Linked DNA regions of Homo sapiens: regions 2, 3, 4, 5 and 6 are each reported to be linked to region 1. Evidence: microRNA targets listed by miRTarBase, many of them from high-throughput screens and not tested one by one. Region 1 holds a microRNA gene; each other region holds the end of a gene's coding sequence.

Region 1 (4,089 bases):
TGAGGACTGGAAGAACATGCATCGCTCACTATGGCAACAAGAAGAGCTGCTGTGCATTCCACCTGTTACGAGGGAGCCCCTTCTAGGGTCCTCAAGATTTTTGTGAAAACAACTGGTTTTGTTGCATGCTACATTTATCACTGTGACTGAGATTCATCTTGTCTACAACAGTTTCTTATATTAGCCACAGCTAATATAAGACACATTTGACATCTTAGCAAGTAACTGGCATTTAGATGCAAGGTTTAAGCCCATTGGAATGGTACCTTGGAATCGTTACCCAAAGAAAATAGGATAAACATGGCAGCTACAGTCAAAGAACTCACTGGGGTTGGCATTAGTGGGTGAGGGTTGAATCAACTACACCCTTCCTGCAGAGAAAGCAGGTCTATTCCGAGAAATGATGGCAAGATGTTGGGGAAAAACAAATTTCAGTGTTACGGACAAGCAGATTACACTAAAAAGACACGAGTGAACAGGAACAAAAAGAAATTGTATCAATACGGACACCCACTGGGGATTACAGAATAGACTGGATGGACTTGGAGGATTACCCACTCTCTTAATGAAGGAACCATGGTTTGGATTGATTATACTAAATTGATGGGAGGCCATTGTATGACATGACCAACCCAAATGAAATCTGTGGGACCAGGTGCTATGTAATCTGTTTTTAAAGAAATGGGATCTTGCTATGTTGGCCCAGGCTGGAGTGCAGTGGCTATTCAAAGGTGGGATCTGTGCACGGTATAGCCTTAAAATCAAAGCACCCTCCCGCCCCGGCCCCTGCAGTAACTGGGACTGTGTGCCCCATGATGCCTGGCCAAGTCAACTATCTTTGAAATGGGTCATCAGGACAAGGTGGCTCACACCTGTAGGATCGCTTGAGCTCAGGAGTTGAGACCGTCCTGAGCAACAGAGACCCCATCTCTACCAAAAATTAAAAGCTGAACCAAGTGTTGTGTCACGCCCCATGTAATCCCAACTACTTGGGAGGCTGACTCAGGAAGACCACTTGAGGCCGGACACAGTGGCTCACGCCTGTAATACCAGCACTTTGGGAAGCCAGGGAGGCAAATCACTTGAAGTCAGGAGTTGAGAACAGCCCAGCAAACATGGTGTAACCCCATCTCTGCTAAAAATACAAAAATTAGCATGACATGGTGGTGGGCGCCTGTAATCCCAGCTACATGGGAGGCTGAGGTGGCAGAACTGCTGGAACCTGGGAGATGGAGGTTGCAGTGAGTGGAGATTGTCCTACTGCACTCCAGCCTGGGTCACAGAGCCAGATTCCATCTCTAAATGAATGAATGAATAAATAAATAAATAAATAAATAAATAAATAAATAAATAAATAGAGGGTCTCTTGGGCCCAGGAGAGCTAGGTTGGAACTGCCACTGCACTCCAGCCTGGGCAACAGAGACCCTGTCTTGGAGAAAAACAAAATCAGAACCCCAACATCATCCGAGTCTGATGATGAGCGTGCTCTGCAAATGTATTACCAAGATCAGCATCAACTTCAACGCTGCTTTACTCAAACCGAAACAGTCCAAAGGGAAGCACTTTCTTTTCTCTCAGACAACAGAAAGTACTTCCCTCTGGAGGGTCACAGCCTGAGATCTTCTTGCTCCAGCACTCTGGGTTTATTGTTGGAATTTTCCTTGACCAGGTTTAAATGGACACAAAAATAAAGATGCATTTTTCCTGGCCCTGTTTGCATGTTTTCTGGAATCCAGAATATAAACCCCCTAAAAGGACCATCTCCAGTTCCTTCTTTCAAAGGCTCAGCAGGTTAGCCTTGTTCATCAAGGGGCAATCCTCCTGAGTTTTGCCCCCAAAGAGAAAAAGCAATGCCTACTACTCATACCTTATCTTTAACCAAGAGAATCGAACTGAATTTCTAGAGAACAGCAATGGATTTTGAGCCAAGTGTTCACTTGAGTTCCAGTATAGGCACATGTAGTACCCATGGGGGCATCCAAAATGGAATCTAAGATGTTGAAGAATGTACATTGTCGCACACACAAACATCCTCCAGGAGAGACCACAGGCTACGCTGTAAAAGCTCCTCAATAAAAAAATACACAAGTACCTGTTGGGTGCGGTGGCTCACATCTCTAACCCCAGCACTTCAGGACGCCGAAGTGAGAGGATCACTTGAGCTCAAGAGTTCCAGACAAGCCTGGGCAACATGGTGAAGCTTCATCTGTACAAAAAATACAAAAGTGAGCCAGGTGTGGTGGTGCATACCTGTAGACACTAATTCAGGAGGCTGCGGTGGCAGGTGGAGGTTGCAGTGAGCCAACATTGCACCACTGCACTCCAGCCTCGGTGATATAGTCAGGCTGTGTCTTGTAAAAACTAGAAACACATACACACACACACACACACACACACACACACACAAAGACACACACTCAAAGTGATAGTCTCCTGCCTCACCCTCCGGAGTAGCTGAGACTACAGGCGTGCGCCACCAGCCCTGGCTAATTTTTTGTATTTTTAGCAGAGACATGGTTTCACCATGTTGGCCAGTCTGGTCTCGCCCTCCTGATCTCAGGTTATCCACCCGCCTCGGCCTCCCAAACTGCTGGGATTACAGGCGTGATCCACCGCACCTGGCCATACATCATATATTTTTGAGACCCTGTCTCAAAAGAAAGAAAGTTCCATATACTGTATGCTCACAGAAAGAATAATTCCTACACATAAGTCCTTGCTTTGGCAGCTCACACCCCCGTCTCTAAAATACAAAACCTAAATCAAGTGTGCGTTGATAACGTGGTCATACACCCTGTATTTCAGCTTCATTTACCCAATAAAAACTCAAAGCCCATGCACTCCACCTCTGTGCTCTTGCGAAGCAATGCACATCCCATCTGCAAGGGACACTGAGGTTCCCTTCAACTCTACCTCAAGTCAAGTCAAGGGAGGTTCTGTAAACCAGTGCAGGCATAACTTCCACGGAGTGAAAGGTGTTGAGGGCTGGACGAACAGGCATCACTCACTATGGCAACAAGAGCGGATGCGCATCCCACCTGTTACTAGGGAGGCCCTTCTAGGGTCCTCAAGGTTTTTGTGAAAGTATCTGTGGTTTTGTCCCATGTGACATTTATCACTGCAACTGAGATTCATCTTGTCTATAATAGCTTGTTTCTCATATTAGCCACAGCCAACATTTCACAGCTTACCAAGAAATTTGCATTTAAATGTGAGGTTTTGCAGGTTGGAATGGTACACTGGAAAAATTACCTGCAGAAAACAGGATAAACAGTGCAGCTGCAGTCACAGCACTCACTACGGTTGGCATGAGTGGGTGAGGGTTGAATCAACTACACCCTTCCTGCAGAAAAAGGTCTATTCCGAGAAATAAGTGGAAGCTGTTAAGCAAGAAAAATTTTCGATGTCAGGGACGAGCAGATTAAATTAAAAAGACAGGAATGGGCCGGGCACGGTGGCTTATATCTATAATCCCCAGCACTGTGGGAGGCCAAGGAGGCAGATCACTTGAGGTCAGGAGTTGAGACCAGCCCCGCAAACATGGTGAAACCCCGTCTGTGCCAAAAGTACAAAAACTGGCAGGTCATAGTGGTGAGCATTTGTAATCCCAGCTACTAGTGACACGGAGGTGGGAGAATTTCTGGAACCTGGGAGGCAGAGGATGCAATGAGTGGAGATCATCCCACTCTACTCCAGCCTGGGTGACAGAGCCAGGCTCCATCTCAAAAATGAATACATAAATAAATAAAAAGAGGATCACTTGAGCCCAAGAGAGCTAGGTTGGAAGTGCCACCGCACTCCAGCCTGGGCAACGGAGACCCTGTCTTAGAAAAACACAAAACCAAAACATAACCCCGCTATCATCCAAGTCTGATGATAAGCATGCTCTGCAAATGTATTACCAAGATCAGCATCAACTTCAACACTGCTTTTCTCAAACCGTAACCCTCAAAAGGGAAGCGCTTTCTCTTCTTTCTGACAACAGAAAGCGCTTTCCTTTGTAGACTCATAGCTTGAGATCTTCTTGCTCCAGCACTCTGGGTTTCGTGTTGGAATTTTCTTTGACCAGGTTTAAATGGACAGAAAAA
Region 2 (4,089 bases), not on the chromosome of region 1:
AATTGCTTTAAAAACTTGAAGTTTGCTTCTTGCTATAATTAATCCGTCTGACTTTCCTAGCATAGTGTTTGAAAACTGTTCATTCTGGAGCATAGCAAGCCAGTCTGTCATATGTTATACCAAATTTGAAGGTTCTCCAGTACTCTTATGGGAATTAGGCAGATCTATAAAGAAATTTAGGGTTATAGCTTTAATTTAGCACATTTTTTTGTTGTTGATTGATTTACTCTCTATAGAGATTTGTTCTTTTTAATAATATAATATTCAGGTGATTTTTAAATCCTTTTTATTTCTCACTTGCAGGTCCTCAGTTTGCAGAAGACCCCTCCCAGTTGCCTTCAACTCAGTTACCTTCCTCACCTTTTGGAGACTATCGACAATATCAGTAGGACTTCTTTCCTAGGATTTCTTTAACAGAACGAGTTGTGGTTCGAGAAGGATTTCAGAAGATCAAGTTACAGTCTGTTTTTAAAACCATAGGTGGGACAGCTATGGCCAATAGGCTATAAAGAGACATTTAGCACTTTTTTCTATTTAAAGGAACAAGCGGGGAAGGGTGCTAAAAGATAATACGTTTATTTATTCACACTTGAATTGCATTTGTGATCAAAATAAATGTTTAAATCGCTAAAGGAAAATACAGTAAGTGCTTGAAAGATGAAGGACCAAAAGGCCAAAAAACAGTGAAATATGATCATCATCTCCTTGCGGACTTCTCTGCCTGGTTTTGTGTGTTCTGTTATTCAAACAATAAAAAGCTGGTGGAACTTACTCTTTCTTTTAAGATAAGTTGTAGACTTCGATGTTTCATGCTCATGTACTTCAAATAATGCATGTTTTATAGTTAGTCCCTCATCACTTGAAGTGACTTCTGAGAATTATGCAGAGTCAACATGGATCATTTCACAGTGAGATGCTTTATGGATTGAAGGATATGGTAAAATGTTTATAGTTTACTTTGAAAGTAAAATATACTATGTCTTGGTTTTGAGGATATTGGATACAAAACTCTCTTCCTTTAGGGCTACTGAGTCTTGATTCCTGATCATCAGAAATTTCACCAGAAACAACTTGCTTCCAATATACCCAATTCTATATGAAGAATTCATGGAGAGTGTACTGGCACTGGAAGAGTTTAGTGTTTCTTGTATGCTTGAAAATAAAGTATGTACTGTTTTGAATGTGTTCCAAGTCCTCTGCATAAACGATGTATTTTGGGGTCTGGTTGGGCCTGGAAAATGGATGAGCACTTCAGAACAGGTCATTTTCCTGATATTGGAAGTGACATGTGGCCCTATAGGAGGCATGATGTTAGTTAATTACACATTTGCCTACATCTGTGGGAAATGGAGAACAAAGCCATGTGGGTACTGTAAACACACGTTTATCTTTTGGCCCAATGCCATACATATGGTAGGCATTTAATTACTGATTGTGTTTGGATAATTTGGGAATTTTCGACTGTGGTAAAATATACATAAAATAATACTTATTAACCATTTGTAAGTGTATAATTCAGTGGCATTGAAATACAGTCATAATGTTGTATAACAGCCACCATTATGTATACCCAAAATGTTCTCATTATCATCAACATAAACTCCGTTTTGTTTTTAGAGACAGTGTCTTACTCTGTCACCCAGGCTGGAATGCAGTGGCACAGTCATAGCTTACTGCAGCCTCGAACTCCTGGCTTCGAGCCATCCTTCTGCCTCAGCCTCCCACACCCCATGCTGGGATTACAGGCATGAGCCACCATGTCCAGCCTTCACAAACATAAACTCTGTACCTGTTAAATAATAACTTCCCATTCTTTCCTCGCCACAACCACTAGTAACCACAATTCTGCTTTCTGTCTGTGAATTTGCCTTTTCTGGGTACCTTATATAAGTGGAATCATAAAATATTTGTTTTTGTGTGTCCGTCTTAATGCACTTAGCGTGTTTTAAGGTCCATGTAGTAGCATGTAGCAAAATTTATTTTTAGGGCTGAATAATATTCCATAGTGTGCATATACTACATTTTATTTGATGATCAGTTAGGTTGTTTCTACCTTTTGGCTATTGTGAATTATGCTGCTATGAACATTGGTGTACAACTATCTGTTTCAACTCCTATTTTTGGTTCTTTTGGATATATACATAAGAGTGAGATTACCGAGTCATATGGTAGTTCTAGGTTTAACTTTTTTTTTTTTAAAGACACAAGAGTCTGGCCGGGTGCAGTGGCTCACGTCTGTAATCCCAGCACTTTGGGAGGCCAAAGCGGGCAGGTCACAAGCTCAGGAGTTCGAGACCATCCTGGCTAACACAGTGAAATCCCGTCTCTACTAAAAATACAAAAAATTAGCTGGGCGTGGTGGTGGGCGCCTGTGGTCCCAGCTACTTTGGAGGCTGAGGCAGGAGAATGGCGTGAATCCGGGAGGTGGAGCTTGCAGTGAGCCGAGATCTTGCCACTACTCCAGCCTGGGCGACAGAGCGAGACTCCGTCTCAAAAATATAAAAGAAAGTGCTGGGCGCGGTGGCACACGCCTGTAATCCCAGCACTTTGGGAGGCTGAGGAGGGTGAATCACGAGGTCAGGAGTTCGAGACCAGCCTGGCCAACATGGTGAAACCCGGTGGGTACTAAAAATACAAAAAATTAGCTGGTAATGGTGCCGGGCACCTATAATCCCAGCTATTTGGGAGGCTGAGGCAGGAGAATCACTTGAACCTGGGAGGGAAGAGGTTGTAGTGAGCCAAAATCACACCACTACACTCCAGCCTGGGCAACAGTGCAAGACTGTCTCAAAACAAAAAAGTAATCCACTATTGCATGCCAATTTGGCACAAGATGTCAGATACAAAGCAAAACAGATGGGGTATTTCTGATGGGCATTTCAACCTTAAAAGTGAGAAACTAACTTCACTATTCCAGTAAAGACCTAGGGAAAACCTCCTTCCTAATCTGCTTGTTTCTCCAGTTATTTATTTCAGTTATTAAAACAATTTAGTTTTTTTACTTTTTATCTTGAGCTCTACTCTAGTATACCAAATTTAGTTTTAGAATATTTATTAAACAGTTCAGCTGGGGATGGTGGCTCATACCCATAATCCCAGCATTTTGGGAGGCTGAAGCAGGAAGGTCGCTTGAGGTCAGGAGTTGGAGACTAGCCTGGGCTAGTGAGACGCTAGCCACAAAATGTAAATTTAGCCAGAGATAGGGTGCACACCTGTAGTACCGGCTGCTTGGGAGGCTGAGGCGGGAGGATCCCTTGAGTCTAGGTGGTCAAGCCTGTAGTGACCTATGATTATGCCACTGCACTTCAGCCTGGGCAACAGAACAAGACTCTTTTGTTTGTTTGTTTGTTTGTTTGTTTGTTTGAGATGGAGTGCTAGGATTACAGGCATGAGCCACTGCACCTGGCCAGCACTTTCTTTAAATAGAGACAGAGTTTTGCCACATTGTCAAGGCTGATCTTGAACTCCTGGACTCAATCCTCCCACCTCGGCCTCCCAAAGTGCTGGGATTACAGGCGTGAGCCACTGTGCCTGGCCGAAATAGTGGATTTCTGAATCAGGGTTTGGAAGACATGGGTACAGCTGCACCTGCTATTGAAAGTGCATCTGTTTTTCACATAGGAAATGTCTGCAAATTATGAAAGCATGGTCATAGCTCCACCCTGTGGCATGTTACTTATAGTTAAAATTAATTGTCCAAATTCTATTCAGGCTGGGCCCAGTGGCTCATGCCTGTAATGCCAGCACTTTGGGAGGCTGAGGCGGGTGGATCACTTGGGGTCGAGACTTGAGGTTTCACCTTGTTGGTCAGGCTGATCTCGAACTCCCAACCTCAGGTGATCTGCCCGCCTCCGCCTCCCAAAGTGCTGGGATTACAGGCATGAACCACCGCATCTGGCCTCAAATAATAATAATAATAAATTCTATTCAGTCTGTTAGATCATGGATGAGACCTTGTCTCTACTAAAATTCAAAAAATTTAGCTGGGCATGGTGGCATATGTTTGTAGCCCCAGCTACTCAAGGGGGCTGAGGCAGGAGGATTCCTTGATCCTGGGAAATGGAGGGAGCAGTAAGCTGAGATCGCACC
Region 3 (4,089 bases), not on the chromosome of region 1:
TGTTTTTTTTTTCTTTTTCTCTGAATTATCTGCTTAGATACAGGGACTCCATTTTTTTCCTACTTACAAGATCTTTAATCCTAGTATTGAGGAAAATGTCACTTACCTAACGTGGAATTGTAGACAACATCTAATGGTAGTTGTTGGTGGTGGTAGACAGGTATTGGGATGAATTTTTTAAAAAAATTTTCTCTAAACCATTCTAAAATGATTTTAAAAGATTGGGTTGTAAAAGCCATTGAATTGAAATTTAGTAGTTAATTTCTAAGGAATGTAATGCTGTTTTTAAAATATTTCTTTACATAGGTGGTTTTGATGATAATTCTCCTCTGAGTTCAGTTGAGCGGTATGACCCCCGAAGCAACAAGTGGGATTATGTGGCAGCACTTACTACTCCCAGAGGTGGAGTGGGAATCGCAACAGTGATGGGCAAAATCTTTGCAGTTGGTGGTCATAATGGCAATGCATACTTAAATACAGTAGAAGCGTTTGATCCAGTGCTGAATAGGTAATTTACATGTTGTCTCCGTGCTTTATATTATCTTCTGGTATAATAGTAGATTACTTCAGAGTGTTAAAATGTTGCTAGTCGTAGTTAATACTAAGCTTTGGGATATCTTATCTCCCACTGGAAGCTTGCTGTCCTACAAAACCAGTCTCACATAGGGAATTTTTGTCTTTGGTTAGTATTTTGAGTAAAGTAAATTATGCTTTGTAACATTTTTTCTTCTCCGTCTTTTCAGGTGGGAGCTTGTTGGATCTGTGTCTCACTGCAGAGCTGGAGCAGGAGTAGCTGTGTGTTCCTGTTTAACTAGCCAAATTCGAGATGTAGGTCATGGATCCAATAATGTGGTTGACTGTATGTGATTTGAGTTCTGGCCACCAACAATTTAGTCATATCTGATAGGTACAAAAGAAAACCAAGATTTTGATATGACCACCTTTCAACACTTTTTACTGCAACTAGAGTCTTATTTAAATGTTAACTGTTGTATTGTGACTAAGTACAACTTTTGGAATGATACCTGAAGAATTATTAGTAATAGAGTTAAATTTGATACTTCCTGCTTTTGCAAATAATGGAGTAGGGAAGAAGATAGTCGAACTTAAAATCATACCTACCCTGAAAAATGCTTAAAGTAGTGCCAAAAATCTTGAAATCTCTCTCTCTCTCTCTATTTGGATGAATCAAAATGTAATTTGTTGAGTTTTGCCTTTTCTTTTGCCTAAAGATGTTAACGTCAGGCAGTGGGTTTTTCCTAGAGGAGAGATTAGTACCTATTCATTAACACAAGGATACATAAGAGACTTGCCCCTTTTGAAGATCATTTCTACTTGGTGCTGATGAATTTATGCCTAGCTTTTTTTTTCTAGGTGGTGATTTTTCAATTTCTTTTATATTTACGGAAGTAGAAAAAATGTTCTGTCTTTTTGAATGCCACTTAGCTGCATTTTCAGAAGCTTATAGGCTATAAGAAGCCTTTAATTTCAGTTTGAATTGCTAGGACACCAAAAGACCTAGCTGGGCTAACTCCATCCAAATGATTTTACAGTTTTATTTTTTCATCTTTTGCAAAAAGTATTTGTTACATAATCAAAAGGTGAACCAGAGGAAATATTGAACAAGGTTTTAGATCTGATGTTATTCTGGTGCCCAATTGAGAGACCTTGAGAAAGAATGATGCAGATTACATGACTCTAATGTGGGCAGTCTGAAAATATCTTTAACTGTCTTCTTTGATCATTTGATTTTGGATCCAAGATTTATCATCTCTCTATTTTGCTATTTGCCACCATCCTGGTTTTTCTGACTGTACAGAATCAATCTGCATTTATTTATTATCAGAAATGAATGCATTTTTACAAAAACCTTTTTGTAGACTGTAGTTTATTGATTAGTTCAAGCCCATCACGAACTAATTAAACATATTGTTGGTAAAAACAGAGATTGAAATTACTGTTTTTATCATATTTAAATCCCTCTGGTGTATTTATTGAAATTTAATTAAAAATATTTCTACATATTGATTTGAAGCCAGGATATTGATGGACCTACAGATTTAACAGCTCTTCAAAGTTTTAACTAGCATTATAAAATGGCCTATTCATTATATGTATATTTTTTTATAAATATTTATCAAGAACATGAAAATATTTTATTTTGTATTTGCAGTGCAGTTTGGCACCTCTCTTCCAGGCCTTCCTAAGTTTTTGTTAGTTGTGTCTTCGAATTTATTGTAGTTCACCGCTGGTCAGTAATCTGGTTCATAAGGAAGCTGGGGCAGTGAAAAACACTTCGTTGATCCATCCAGCCCTAAAGTTCATTGACTAATAGCTCATGCATCTTATTAAATGGGATTCTGGACTTCTACAATAGTGTGGAAAGCCACATCACAAAAAAAGCCACATCACAAAAAAAAGCCAGTGCCTATTGAGTATATCAAACCAAAAAAGAAAAAAAAAAGTTTTAAGAGGGGTCAGGCTGGCAGATAAAAGTCTCTTATGAAGCAGATATAAATCCAGTAAGCTATTTTTTTCTACCTATGGGCAAGTTCATAAGTCATTGCTGGATCTGAACCAGTGTTCTTTTGTGTAAGTACAACCATATTTCAGTCAGTCCAGAGGCAGTTAACCCTGTAGCACTTACTAGACTGGTGACAACTGGCTGGATGTGGAGAATAAGTGTCAAAACCTGGCTTCAATGTCTATTTCTTATGTCTAATGGAGTTCTTATATTACAGTGTTTGTTTAGCTATGGTTACTAATATGTTTGTTATATTTATTTTCGGGGAGAGGATCTTGTTATTGTTTCCTGAGATTATTTAAAATGTTTTTTCTTTGATGTATTTCTGTCTTTCTTATATGTAAGGAGTTATAAGGGTTATTATATTTTCATTTCTGGTTTTTACTATACAATGGTTATCTAACATACTAAGTTGGTACCCTACCTACCCGTAAAATATGAAATACTCAGAAGTAAAGTGTGTGGGCAATCAGAAGCATAGCCTTGAAGGACCTGACAGCAGTATGAAAAGATAAATAGGCCAGGCATGGTGGCTCACGCCTGTGATCCCAGCACTTTGGGAGGCCGAGGTGGGTGGACCACCTGAGATCAGGTGTTCAAGACCAGCCTGACCAACATGGTGAAACCCTGTCTCTACTAAAAGTACAAAAATTAGCCAGGCGTGGTGGCGCATACCTGTAATTCCAGCTACTCAGGAGGCTGAGGCAGGAGAATTGCTTGAACCCAGGAGGTGGAGGTTGCAATGAGCCGAGGTTGAGCCATCGCACTCCAGCGGTGAAACAAGAGTGAAACTCCATCTCAAAAAAAAAAAAAAAAAAAAGATAAAAAAGCAGAATCAATATGTGCACAGTTCTCTTTATCAGGCAAAAACACGTTTATTGAGACATGAAATGAGAATCAGGCTGAAGGAATCATGCAGCTGAAAGATGATTATATTCATAGAAATGAAGAGATGAAATATTCAAAGAAGATGGCTACTTTATTGTGAGACTTACCACTTTAACCTCATATGTTAACAGCACCTACCAAAAAATGATATGAGATAGAGCTAAAATACTGAAATTGCAAATGGACAAAATAAATCATGAAAATTTGTTTATTATTTCTTCAATAAATATTTCTAGGTGCTTTGTGATTCTTTCATTTAGTCATTAAAGCCATTGCTTTACTATATTGCGTTGCCACTTTAAAAACAAGTTACTTGACATTGTTTTTGACAGATTTCACTATATACTTATGTAATTAATTGATTATTTCTAAAATGTTTGAATAAACTTTGTACTCCCTCTAAGGAGTATTTTATTCATTCTTTTAATTCCCAAATGAACTTTGAACTTACAGTGCTGTTGAATGCCTTGGTAAGGACTTCTTGAAATTGCATAAACTATTCTTGTAAATGGTAAACTTGAGAATTTTCTTTGTTTCTTTTTTCTCTATGTCTTAAAGAATGCCTTTAGAATCTAATTCATGTTGTATCAGTTAAGAATGTTTCTGTGGTTTCTCGTATCAGATGTGTAAAGAAATTATTACTGGGATGCCATTGGCTATGTCTCTTTCCCCTTCAT
Region 4 (4,089 bases), not on the chromosome of region 1:
GCAACATTAATGTCATCAGAATAAGAGTATGGTCTTCCGTGGTGATTTCCTTGAAAGATGAGACAGTAATGACTGGCATGTAGAAATTCTGACTTGGTGATTGCTTTTAAACCTATCACATTACTTTATCATTAGTCCTGACTAACAAGACCACTGCAATATAGGAGGCACTGTATGGTGGTAGACTAATGGGTGGGCTGAGTTTGAGTCCTGGCCATGCCATTTATAAGCTGTATAATTGTGAGACACTACTTAGATTCAGTTTCTTGATCTTTAAAGTAGGAAGATTAGTCCCTGTCTTACATGGTAGGTGTGAGGATAAAATAGATAATGTCTGTAACACATTTAGCAGTTAGGGCCTCTTAGAGTTTGAGAGAGCTGCAGGCTACTTCTTAGAGGATCCCACAATTTAAAATGTGACAACAGGATTTACATATTTATAGATTTTTACAGTTGTTCACTGGGGAAACAACATGAGACAATATAAAAGCAATAATAAAATAATTACCAGATTTTTTCGTAAGTGCGATTCTTAGTGGACCATAATTTAAAGTGTTATATGTCTTTCAGTTTTGTGGATGTATTTGCAGTATCTCATTTGGCCATGTCACAAGTTTAAATGTAAGTCACAAGTTTAAATGTAAAGCTCTGTGATTGTGAGACCTCCTGAGCACCTCCAGGATGGGCCCTGAGCACAGTGTTAATAGCTAATGTTTATCAGCTCATTTTTGGTTTCAAACAGTTTTCAAAGAATCGATAAGTACACTTTGCTGCTAAGGCCTCAACTATGTTCTCTTGGCTGCTTTTTGCTGGGGGAATGGCAGGGACAAGGTCTCACTCTGTCACTCAGGCTGAGTGCAGTGGCACGCTCATAGGTCACTGCAGCCTTGAACTCCTGAACTCAAGCAGTCCTCCCACATCAGCCTCACGATTAGCTGGGACCACAGGCACATGCCACCATGCCTGACTTTTTTTTTTTTTTTTTTTTTTTGAGACAGAGTCTCACTGTCACCCAGGCTGGAGTGCAGTGGCCCAGTCTCGGCTCAGTGCAACCTCCGCCTCCCGAGTTCAAGCAATTCTCCTGCCTCAGTCTCCTGAGTAGCTGGGACTACAGACACCTGCCACCATGCCCAGCTAATTTTTGTATTTTTAGTAGAGAGAGGGTTTCACCATGTTGGCCAGGCTGGTCTTGAACTCCTGACCTCAAGTGATCTGCCTGCCTTAGCCTCCCAAAGTCCTGGGATTACAGCGTGAGCCACCGTGCCTGGCTTTTTTTTTTTTTTTTTTCAAGAGACAGGGTCTTGCTATGTTGTCCAGACTGGTCTCAAACTCCTGGGGTCAGGCAAACCTCCCACTTCAGCCTCCCAAACTGCTGGAATTACAGGCATGAGCTACTGTGCCCAACCTCCTGGTTGGTTGCTTGCTTGCTTGCTTTTTTCCTCAACTCCTAAGTGCTTGGAAACTCTTGGTTGGTTTTTGTTGTTTTTGTTTTTTGAGATGGATTCTTGCTCTGTTGCCCAGGCTGGAGTGCAGTGGCACGATCTTGGCTCACTGCAACCTCCACCTCCCAGGTTCAAGCAGTTCTCCTGCCTCTGCCTCCTGAGTAGCTGGGATTACAGGCATGTGCCACCATGCCCAGCTAATTTTTGTATGTTGTGGTGTTTTTTGACACAGTCTTGCTCTGTTGCCCAGCTCTTGGTTGCTTTAAAAAATACAAAATTAGCTGGGCGTGGTGACGGGCGCCTGTAATCCCAGCTACTCGGGAGGCTGAGGCAGGAGAATCGCTTGAACCCGGGAGGCAGAGGTTGCAGTGAGCCAAGATCATGCCACTACACTCCAGCCTGGGTGACAGAGCAAAACTCCATCTCAAAAAAAGAAAAGTACAAACCACTTGAATAACATCTCTGAAAATTAGGGCATCTGGCATGTATAATCTCATGCTCTTCTAGTAACCATCAAGACATGATGTCCTGGCCCTAGCTAGCTATGGCATCCCATGAGCCTACTTTAAAGCACAGTTTACAAAGAAACTTCACCTGTGGTTGCCTCATACACAGACCATTTCCTTTGACTCTAAAGGAGTTTGAAAACTCTCAAAATATCAAAATATTTTAATTGATCTTAGACTGACTTAGAAACGGTTATTTACATACATTTAGAATTATAAATTGCAAAGAGAAATTTCCCAAAACCAAAATACTCACAAAATATTATTAAACATTCAAGCAAAAATGTTTTTAACCCAATTAAATTTCTCAGCTCAGTGGCCTGCTGATATAATATTGATTACTGGCTAAAAACTACATTTGCAGAAACTTTTAGAAATGTCTTTCATGGCCACATAGTATGTACTGAGCAATTGTGGAGTGAAGCACTGTACTAGGAGTTATCTAGAAGAATTCATTTAAATAGAAATTACATTGGAACATTTGTGAAAGACATTTAATAATCCACAAAACTTGCACAGGAAGTACAATAACAAGTGCTAAGGGTAATGGAGTGATCGAAGTAACAGGTGCAAAATCAGGATTACTTAGAGAAAATTTCAGACTTCAGAAGGCAGGTGGGGAGTCCTCGAGTGTTTTGAAAGCAAAAGGTATGAATTTGGTTCAAAACTGAAAGGAGTGACTTTAAGACCAAAGCATATATTGTGGATAGTTGACCTTCAGATTTGCATAGCTGTCCTGCAGGCTAAGGATGATATCAGTTATCTGGGAGGGTAACTGAAAGCTTTTTATAATTTGGTAGCAACTGGAGGCTACCACAGAACCATAGAGTAATTTTTTTTTTTTTTTTTTTTTTTTTTGAGAGCCTCCCTCTGTCTCCCAGGCTGAAGTGCAGTGGCACGATCTTAGATCACTGCAACCTCCACCTCCCAGGCTCAAGTGATTCTCCTGCCTCAGCCTCCTGAGTAGCTGGGACTACAGGCTCCCGTCACCGTGCCCAGCTAAGTTTTATATTTTTAGCAGAGATGGGGTTTCGCCATATTGGCCAGGCTGGTCTTGAACTCCTGACTTCAGGTGATCCACCCACTCGGCCTCCCAAAGTGCTGAGATTGCAGGAGTGAGCCACTGCACCTGGCCCACAGAGGGTAATTTTTTTTAAGTAGTTGAGAAGCTAGAGGCAAGGGGGCTGTCGAAATAATCTGCATGCAGAGTCATTGGAGCTATGATTGAACGTGAAGATGACAGGCCCAATTTTAAAAAGTAATAAACCTAGGATGAGGGTTGAAGAGACGGGGTAGAGTGACTTTAAGATTATAAGCCTTGGAGGGACCAGGAGAAAATGGCAGCTGTCAAACACAAGGGGAAACTGAGTCAAGCTGAGGCATTCTTGTGAAGAAAATAATGAGTTCTGAACAACCAGTCCAAAAACTAAAAACAGGCCTGGCAAGAAGGCATAGGGATGCAGACCAATGGAATGTGCAGGCTTGGAGAGAACACAGGTAAAAACGAATGCGGGAACTCTGGGGTGGGAGTGTGGGCTTAAAACGTCATTGACAAAGTGGCGGGGTACCTTCAAATGTGAGAGGTGCTGTCAAAACCATCATCAAGGTTAACAAGGACATGTCCTTAGCATGGAAGTCAGAAAGGACAGTATGCTGATGTGTCTCTCCCAGGCTGTCAGTCATGGCTCCTCAGAGCTTATCCCGAATTCTCCCAGAATCCTCAAAAGTTACCAAAGGCAGAAAAGATGTGTTCCTCCCATGAGTCCAGCTTTGAACCAATGTCTTCAGAGAGAGGGGAACAGGTTTCAAAATTCTGACCTTGGGAGCTAGAGTCAGAGATGCCCCCTCCAACCCCGTTTGGTTCGGGCAGGCAGTTCACATCTACCTCAAGAGGCAGCTGGGGCTTCAGACATTTCGTTTCAGTTCCAGGAGCACAGTGGTTGAGGATAATCTCCGGCCTAGCCAAAGGTTGGAAGGATTTCCCACTCTGACGCCGAGACTTGGCACGCCTGTTCTGGAACCATACCTGGAAGAGGGGAGAAAATAAAAGCTGCTTTTGGTTGGAGTTTTTTATGCTAACATTATGTTCACAGTTCATACTGGTAAGTTCCAGTTTAACATCCCCTGGCTTCCTCTCCAGA
Region 5 (4,089 bases), not on the chromosome of region 1:
GGCCCAAGACCTGGTGCTGGATACTATGTGTCTGTCCACTGACGACTGTCAAGGCCTCATTTGCAGAGGCCACCGGAGCTAGGGCACTAGCCTGACTTTTAAGGCAGTGTGTCTTTCTGAGCACTGTAGACCAAGCCCTTGGAGCTGCTGGTTTAGCCTTGCACCTGGGGAAAGGATGTATTTATTTGTATTTTCATATATCAGCCAAAAGCTGAATGGAAAAGTTAAGAACATTCCTAGGTGGCCTTATTCTAATAAGTTTCTTCTGTCTGTTTTGTTTTTCAATTGAAAAGTAATTAAATAACAGATTTAGAATCTAGTGAGAGCCTCCTCTCTGGTGGGTGGTGGCATTTAAGGTTCAAACCAGCCAGAAGTGCTGGTGCTGTTTAAAAAGTCTCAGGTGGCTGCGTGTGGTGGCTCATGCCTGTAATCCCAACATTCTGGGAGGCCCAGGCGGGAGAACTGCTTGAGCCCAGGAGTTCAGAATCAGCCTGGGCAACATAGCAATACTCCGTCTCATAAAAATTAATAAATAAAAAGTCTCAGGTGACCAAAGGCTCCTGAAGCTAGAACCAGGTTTGGATAAAGATTGAAGAGCCACAGGCCACTCTTCCCTCTGAGCCATTGGGCCTAGTGGTGTCATGTATTGTAATTGCTCGCAGGGAGAGCAGTCTTTTTGGTGTAATAGTGGGATGTCTGCTTAGTTGGCAGGGGTTCAGTCCAAATGGAAGAATATTGGGAAATAAACCTCCACTATCCTTTATAGCCAGGGACTTTTTTCTTATTTATTCATAAAATAAATTATAGTTAATTATACCCATAACACCTTTATTTAAATCCAGTGTTCTCCGCAGCCTTTTGTCTATTTATATGTGTACCAAGTGTTAAACATAATTATTATTGGGCATTTGAACTTTGTTTTTCTTTAAAGAAATGCTGCTATTAAACATATTTGTAAATGGTTTGTTTTTCTTCTTTTGAATTATTTCCTTAGGAGAGTAGGTCAAAGTGTAGGAAGTATTTATGGCTCTCAGTATGGATTAGCCTTCAAAAGAACTGAGTCAAGTTACACTGCTGTTAGCAGTGTGTGAGAATGGCTGCCTCTGCCCCCTGGCCTTCCCATGTTTAGTATTTTTCAGATTGTGTGTGTGTTAAATGAAGCCAGTGTTGCTACCTTCTGTAAATTACTACAGGTCAACATCCAACCCTTTCAGCTGTCCCTGCCTGCCTTGGTTTCCCCAGCTAAGCCCCAAAGCCAGGTGGCCAGGCCTGCTCATCTCTCTGGTGGGGCTTAATATCAGTTACCTAACTGGGGCTGGGTGTCCTTGAGGTGACCACTGGGGTCTATTTCCTCCTTCCTCCCCTTCCCTCTTGTACCCTAGTTCCCAAAATTCTGATTCAGTCTTTTTTTTTTTTTTTTGAGACAGAATCTCTGTTGCCCACACTGGAGTGCAGTGGCACGATCTTGGCTCGCTGCAAACTCCGCCTCCCAGGTTCAAGTGATTCTCACACATCAGCCTCCTGAGTAGCTGGGACTACAGGTGTGCACCACCACACCCTGCTAATTTTTTTGGTATTTTTAGTAGAGATGGAGTTTTGCCATGTTGGTCAGGCTGTTCTTGAACTCCTGGCCTGAAGTGATCCACCCGCCTTGGCTTCCCAAAGTGCTGGGATTACAGGCATGAGCCAAGGCACTCAGCCCATTTTTTACTTTTTTAAAGACACGTCTCTCTGTGTTGCCCAGGCTGGTCTCGAACTCCTGAACTCATCCTTCCACCTCAGCCTCCCAGAGTGCTGGGATTACAGGCATGAGCGACCACGCCTAGCTTCCAATTCAGTCTTGAGCCCATAAACTTCTCAGTACAGTGGTTTCCAATGCACCTGTTTCCAAGTATATCCTAAGAATCTTGTGTTAACAGGGGCCTGCTTTAATCAGGGTTCCTGCAATTAGCGTATTAGTTTATTGGTAAATAAGCACTGGTTTGTTAATTCCCTCTAGAAATCTTGTTTAGTAATGTTTTTTGTGTTTTCTTTTTGTTTGTTTGTTTGTTGTTTTTGTTTTGAGACAGTCTTGCTCTTGCCCAGGCTGGAGTCCAGTGGTGCCACATTGGCTCACTGCAACCTCCGCCTCCCAGGTTCAAGCGGTTCTCCTGCCTCAGCCTCAGAAGTAGCTGGGATTACAGGCACCCACGCCCAGCTAATTTTTGTATTTTTAGTAGGGATGGGGTTTCACCATGTTGGCCAGGCTGGTCTCGAACTCCTGACCTCAGGTGATCCACCTTCCTTGGCCTCCCAAAGTGCTGGGATTACAGGTGTGAGCCACCACGCCCAGCCTTGTTTAGTAACTTTTTTTTTTTTGAGACGGAGTCTCGCTCTGTCGCCCAGGCTGGAGTGCAGTGGCGTGATCTCGGCTCACTGCAAGCTCCGCCTCCCGGGTTCACGCCATTCTCCTGCCTCAGCCTCCCAAGTAGCTGGGACTACAGGCGCCCACCACTACGCCTGGCTAATTTTTTTGTATTTTTAGTAGAGACGTGGTTTCACCCTGTTAGCCAGGATGGTCTCGATCTCCTGACCTCGTGATCCGCCCATCTCGGCCTCCCAAAGTGCTGGGATTACAGGAGTGAGCCACCACGCCCAGCCATTGTTTAGTAATTTCTTAAGCAAACCTACTTGTTGTGGTAAAGCCATAGCCAGCCCAGCTCCTGTATCAGTTTGTCACAGAATCTAAGGTCAGAATCTGTGAGGTCTTAAAGAGAGCAAAAGGAATGCTTACTTGAGAATACCAGTTCATATTTAATTACTACTAATCACAGTAGCACTGAACATGGCTCTAGTGAGTGGGCCTCAGTCAGTTCAGGCAGCTAAAGGGAGGGGGATTTCCTCCTAGTCCTCTCCCTAGAGCTAAATATGCATCTGGGAAAAATTAGGCTCTGGAGCACAGAGGTATTTTTCTAGAGGAAAAAGAACTGAACTCCCAGCACTAGGTAAAACTGCAAAAAGAAAAACACCTGTGCCCAGGCACTAGCTACAAGGCCACACCAGAAAAGGAAAGCTGGGTCCTGGAAGCTTCAGGACAGGAACTCTTCCTTGGTCAAGTTTTCCCCAGCACCTAGCACATAGGAAGGTGCTTGATGAGTGAGTGTTAAATGAACCTGTGAGTGCTCAGGATGATTTCCTGATAATTGGGTTCAGGAATCTACTGGGAGGAGCTTAAACCTAGAAGTTCCCTTTTTGAAAGTCTCAAATATGGTTCCCTAACTTAGAGAAGACAGATGATGTGGGAAGGAGGCCTGAGGAGAGGATGCAGGCTGGCAGAAGGGAGCAGGGTGCATGCGAGCCCAGACCCTGACACCCTTCCAAGGGTGGTGACTGGGTGGCCACTACACAGCACCAGCCTGCTGCAGAGTTCAAAACTAGAAGGGGTTACATGAAAGTGTTCCCAGGATGTGGAGCTGCCCTGGGCTAAGTTCAGTCACCTGCCAGCCTCTGCCGTTCCCATCACCACAGAGCACCTCAGCACCACTCGCCTGAGGAACGGGCTCTGTGTTGCACAGGCCCATGCCTGACGGCCCACCCAGAAACACCCATCTGCTGACCTCTGACCTGGGAACGAGTGAGTGGCTACAACCTCAGCTGAACCCCACATGGTGACATCTTCCAGCAAGGCAAGGACATCAGCACCTCACGCCCATTTACAGGCCCCTCACATGAGCCACTGCTCCTTCTCTTTGATGAAGTGCTCCGCCCAGCGGCGTGTCAGCTCCAGGTACAGGCTGGGCTGGTGAGGCAGGTAGTCCAAATACAGGCGGGTGGGTGTCTTCTTGGGAATGGCCTTCTCAATCTGGGTGCCCTCGTGCCACTCATTGAAGGAGGTAATGGAAACGATCTCGGGCCTCACTGTCAGGGCCGCCTGCAGGGCCGTCTCATAGTACTTGCCATTGACCCTGTTGCGCGTATTGTGGTTGTTCCAGGGCCGAATGCTGGTGTCTATGTAGCCAGGCCCCACACTGGGGATGAACATGAGGTTGTTGGCATCACAAAAGTTCTTCACAGCTTTCCAGTTCTGATGGGAAGAACCAAAGGAGAAAC
Region 6 (4,089 bases), not on the chromosome of region 1:
TATTGCGCCACTGCCCTCCAGCCTGGGTGACAGAGTGAGACTCTGTCTCAACAAAAAAAAAAAAAATAGGAAGCTGAAGAGTAGACCCTACTAGGCTCAGCCCTGGCTCCTGTAGTCGGGTGACGGCCATCAGCATGGGCCTGGGACGTTGTTGCTGGGTGTCTGTGGCCACAGGTTCTGCACCTGGTCCGTGGGTAGGAGTGCCCCTCCTAATGCAGGTCCTGTGCTTGCTCTGCAGGGAAAAGCTCAGCTGTGGCCGCATCAGGCCCCTTGGGGTCAAAGGCCGGAAGCAAGATCCCCACCCCGAAGGGCGGACTGAGCAAGAGCTCCAGCAGGACGTACGCCAAGCGCTGACGCGGCGCTCGGGCTCCTTGGTCTCTGTGAGGGATGGAGCGGGTCTCCTGATTCTACACCATCTCTCCAGAACTCTCTGGCCTTGGTGGCCCCATGCTCTGGCTGCTGTCCCCAGCTCCCCGCCGTGCACGCCTCTTACGCGTCTGTGCCGTCAGCTCTCGTGCAAACGATATGGATGCAGCTAACCAAAGATCCTGCGTGCAGTGCCAGGACCTGGCCGCACTGTACATTAAGCCTTCAGGGCTGTCTCAGGCCTTCCTTAGAATCAGAGAAGGAAGCGTCCTGTTTGGAGAGAGCCAGAGAGCACCGCCGGGAGGCGCTCGCGCAAGGCCACGGTCAGCACAGGCACGGTCCCGCTTTCCTTAGTGCTTGGAGCAATTTCCATAAAACATTCACCAGAAACCTTTTGCACATCGGTCTCTGCCACACGCAGTAGAATTTCCGCAGGGCTGTGGCTCGGCCAGCAGCGGTTCCAGGAGAGTGGCGGTGCGCACGGGCCTCCAGCCGTGCCTTCCCCCTGCAGGCCCCGTCTGCTGGGCCTGCTGCCCAGTGCACTCAGCCCCAGGTAGCAGAACTCACGTTCCCACTATAGCAAGAAATAAAGGCAAAAGAGAACATCTTTTTTTTAATCGTAGTTTTTTTGAGAATTGGTCCCACCTCAGCCGCACCTTGCTGGATGCTTCTCCAGTAGTGCTGCCCCTGTGACAGGCATCAGCTCCCTGCTGGAACTGAGGTAGACACAGGTGTGGGCCCTTCCCGTGCCTTTGCTCAGAGGCGCTTCACTTTCTCCACACTTTCGAATTCCTAAAGACATGTGGAGGAAGTCACTGTTAAATGAATTTCCACCTGATCACCCTGTGTTCACAGCAGGCAGAAGCCCACTGGTATGGGCCTCCCGCCCCTTCCACATCCATGTTGTGATTGGATCCATAAGTTTACTTTCTTCAAAGAGTTGATAGGATGTTTAAAACATCAACACATTGCTTAAAATGATGAAACCAACCCTCAAAAAACAGTCTCCTAACCAGCCATCCCCTCCTGTGGGAGTGAGCTGGGGGTTTTGTCCATAGCTTTGGTTGGGCCTGTGTCACATCCAGGCAGCCATGTGGAGGGAGTCAGGGTCTGTCTGGAAGCATCCACCCTCTCGCTGCCCCAGCCTGTGCTCCCAGGGGCCTAGGCTACCATGGACTGAAGGGCAGTCCCCTCCCACCTGGTGCCCAGGGCTTCTGCTTGCCTCGCTGATGTTGCATGGGCAGACTTCAAAAAGGATAGTTAGAAAGGTTTGGGTTGATGGAGTTTGCATTAATGCAATTAGTGTATAAATATGTTTTAATTGCCAACCGTGTGAAACAACAAAATATCTAAAAACTAATCCCGATTTGAACAATGTACTCCCTGGCCTGGATACATTAATAACCATAAATTTGCATGAATTAATCTCCACGTTTGGTAAACTAATACCTCTGGTTGACTGAGAATACTGAGTAAGATATAAGACCTACCAGGAACCTTTAAGAATATGCTCTGCTCAGTGTTGTTTGTCTGCTTGTTTGCGACGGAGTCTCACTGTGTCGCCCGGGCTGCAGTGCAATGGCGTGATCTTGGCTCACAGTAACCTCCACCTCCTGGGTTCAAGCAATTCTCCTGCCTCAGCCTCCCTAGTAGCTGGGATTACAGGTGCACACCACCATGCTCGGCTAATTTTTTCTATTTTTAGTAGAGATGGGGTTTCACCATGTTGGCCAGGCTGGTCTCGAACTCGTGACCTCATAATCTGCCCACCTTGGCCTCCCAAAGTGCTGGGATTACAGGCGTGAGCCACCACGCCCAGGTTAAATGTGTTTATAAGGAGAGAGGAGGCCAGGCGCGGTGGCTCACGCTGTAATCCCAGCACTTTGGGAGGCCGAGGCGGGCGGACCACCTGAGGTCAGGAGTTCGAGACCAGCCTGGCCAACATGGTGAAACCCCATCTCTACTAAAAATACAAAAATGAGCCAGGCGTGGTGGCCTGTAGTCCCAGCTACTTGAGAGGCTGAGGCAGGAAAATTGCTTGAACCCGGGAGGTGGAGGTTGCATTGAGCCCACATCATGCCATTGCACTCCAGCCCAGGCGACAGAGCGAGACTCCGTCTCGAAAAAAAAAAAAAGTATAAGGAGAGAAATAACTTTAAAGTTTATTAGACAAAACAGAGTATAGATGCCAAGATGTCTGTAAAATGATTTTTTCTGGTTTTAAAGAGATGTTGGCCATTATTTTCTAATCCATTTTTAAAATACAGACAAAACACTTCTTTAAACAGAACAAGAATGAGAAAAGTTAACCAAGGAATTATTCTTTTCTCACCAATCAACACTTTTAAGAAATATATATATATATATACACACATATACACATGCCTTCTATATATTGTAACTTAAAGAAAATACTTATAAAAAGACTTCATTTTTAGTGATTGACAAGCAAACGGGTTCATTTAAAACAGGTTCCTCTTTTGTTAGTTACAGGGGGTTTTTTTGTTGTTTTTTTGTTTTTGTTTTTGTTTTGCGGGGGTGGTGGGGTTTGAGACGGAGTCTTGCTCTGTTGCCTAGGCTGGAGTGCAGTGGCGCGATCTTGGCCCCCTGCAACCTCCGCCTCCCGGGTTCGAGCAATTCTCCTGCCTCAGCCTCCCGAGTAGCTGGGATTACAGGCGTGTGTCACCACGCCTGGCTAATTTTTTTGTATTTTTAGTAGAGACGGGGTTTCACCATATTGGCCAGGCTGGTCTCAAACTCCTGACCTTGTGATCCACCCACCTCGGCCTCCCAAAGTGCTGGAATTACAGGCATGAGCCACCGCGCCCGGCCCAATCATGTGTTTTTGTTGAAATGATCCTACCAGTGATTAGTGGCTATTGAGAGTTTTACAGGGTTATACATTGTTAAGGGACCAAGAATCAAGTACAAAAAATTAAAAAGGAACTGTAAAATCCCTTGGTCATTCATAAATAAATATCTAAATTAGGAATACTAATTAATTGAATTTTCACTCATGAGTATGTTCTGAATATTTAATATTTATTTCTATTATTTTCATATGTTAAGATATTCCATTAAATCTAACTTAAAAGAATTGTATGTATAAATTGGCATTAGGATACAAATGTAAATGTTTTTAATGAAATTTTGCAACTTTTTAATATTTTAACATAGTTTTCTATTTGTCTTTATTTCAAGTACCAGAATTACAAAATATCTAAGTAATATATTTTTGTTGTCGTTTTAGGGCTTAAGGGTTAATTCACCCAGAGTATATTAATATAATAAAAAGATCACTAAATGTTTTGTCACTTTATTTCAACATTACAATTAAAAAGTAATTTGTCAATTACATTTACTTTAATAAACATGGAAGTGTAGCCCAGCCCTGAAACCTTAGAAAGTAGATTGAAAATTGCTGAAAAAAGACACGGCAAATATGAAGTTGCCCTGAGGGTTTGGTCCCTAGAATAAGTAATTTGTCAAAACAAGTTCACTGCTGAAGAAACTGGACAATTTGAAGCCACATGGAGATTAGAGAAAATGATTGACCAGTTTCATCCTGTGGAATAAATTCAGAATGTTCTCTAAGTTCTCTAATTGTGCCCAGTAGAGGATTATACTTTCTAGTCTCTTCATGGGTTTTCCCCCCTTTGAAAGAGGGATTTTACCAGCCCTCAAGGCTGTTTTGCTTTTCAACTAAGCACTGTACGGTGGTCA

The links. Region 1 holds the annotated microRNA hsa-miR-520a-3p (AAAGUGCUUCCCUUUGGACUGU, at 1,546-1,567, opposite strand). A microRNA usually pairs through its seed, bases 2 to 8, with sites in the 3' UTR of a target mRNA and lowers its output. Matches are read on the target gene's strand: a 7mer-m8 pairs with bases 2 to 8, a 7mer-A1 pairs with bases 2 to 7 and ends in A, and an 8mer does both.
Region 2: miRTarBase lists TIMM17A as a target of hsa-miR-520a-3p. Seed matches in the 3' UTR shown: 7mer-m8 at 520-526 and 7mer-m8 at 1,246-1,252.
Region 3: miRTarBase lists KLHL8 as a target of hsa-miR-520a-3p. Seed matches in the 3' UTR shown: 8mer at 2,639-2,646 and 7mer-m8 at 3,075-3,081.
Region 4: miRTarBase lists MIXL1 as a target of hsa-miR-520a-3p. Seed matches in the 3' UTR shown: 7mer-m8 at 3,045-3,051 and 7mer-m8 at 2,481-2,487.
Region 5: miRTarBase lists MANEAL as a target of hsa-miR-520a-3p. The part of its 3' UTR that is shown has no 7-base or 8-base seed match.
Region 6: the mRNA of CEP104 is a reported target of hsa-miR-520a-3p. Seed matches in the 3' UTR shown: 7mer-m8 at 2,244-2,250.

What each region holds. Positions count from the first base shown.
Region 1 is chr19:53,688,411-53,692,499 of GRCh38, reverse strand. It overlaps MIR520A (microRNA 520a), which reads right to left and starts at 1,619; the gene lies at 1,535-1,619. It overlaps MIR1283-1 (microRNA 1283-1), which reads right to left and starts at 4,019; the gene lies at 3,933-4,019. All of the region lies in intron 2 of LOC107985342 (a long non-coding RNA gene), which reads right to left.
Region 2 is chr1:201,969,166-201,973,254 of GRCh38, forward strand. It overlaps TIMM17A (translocase of inner mitochondrial membrane 17A), which reads left to right. Exons shown (of 6, transcript NM_006335.3): 6 at 304-1,499. The coding sequence ends at 389. Among named protein-coding and RNA genes, the nearest start is that of SNORA70H, 7.3 kb to the right of the region's middle. RefSeq lists a silencer at 1,628-1,805.
Region 3 is chr4:87,160,297-87,164,385 of GRCh38, reverse strand. It overlaps KLHL8 (kelch like family member 8), which reads left to right. Exons shown (of 10, transcript NM_020803.5): 9 at 307-508; 10 at 744-4,089. The coding sequence ends at 867. Among named protein-coding and RNA genes, the nearest start is that of KLHL8, 58 kb to the left of the region's middle.
Region 4 is chr1:226,225,392-226,229,480 of GRCh38, reverse strand. It overlaps MIXL1 (Mix paired-like homeobox), which reads right to left. Exons shown (of 2, transcript NM_031944.3): 2 at 2,421-3,974. The coding sequence ends at 3,669. Among named protein-coding and RNA genes, the nearest start is that of MIXL1, 3.8 kb to the right of the region's middle.
Region 5 is chr1:37,799,818-37,803,906 of GRCh38, reverse strand. MANEAL (mannosidase endo-alpha like) reads right to left here. Exons shown (of 4, transcript NM_001113482.2): 4 at 2,774-4,089. The coding sequence ends at 3,704. It overlaps YRDC (yrdC N6-threonylcarbamoyltransferase domain containing), which reads left to right. Exons shown (of 5, transcript NM_024640.4): 5 at 1-962. Among named protein-coding and RNA genes, the nearest start is that of C1orf122, 5.9 kb to the left of the region's middle.
Region 6 is chr1:3,811,667-3,815,755 of GRCh38, reverse strand. It overlaps CEP104 (centrosomal protein 104), which reads left to right. Exons shown (of 22, transcript NM_014704.4): 22 at 239-3,670. The coding sequence ends at 354. Among named protein-coding and RNA genes, the nearest start is that of LRRC47, 17 kb to the right of the region's middle.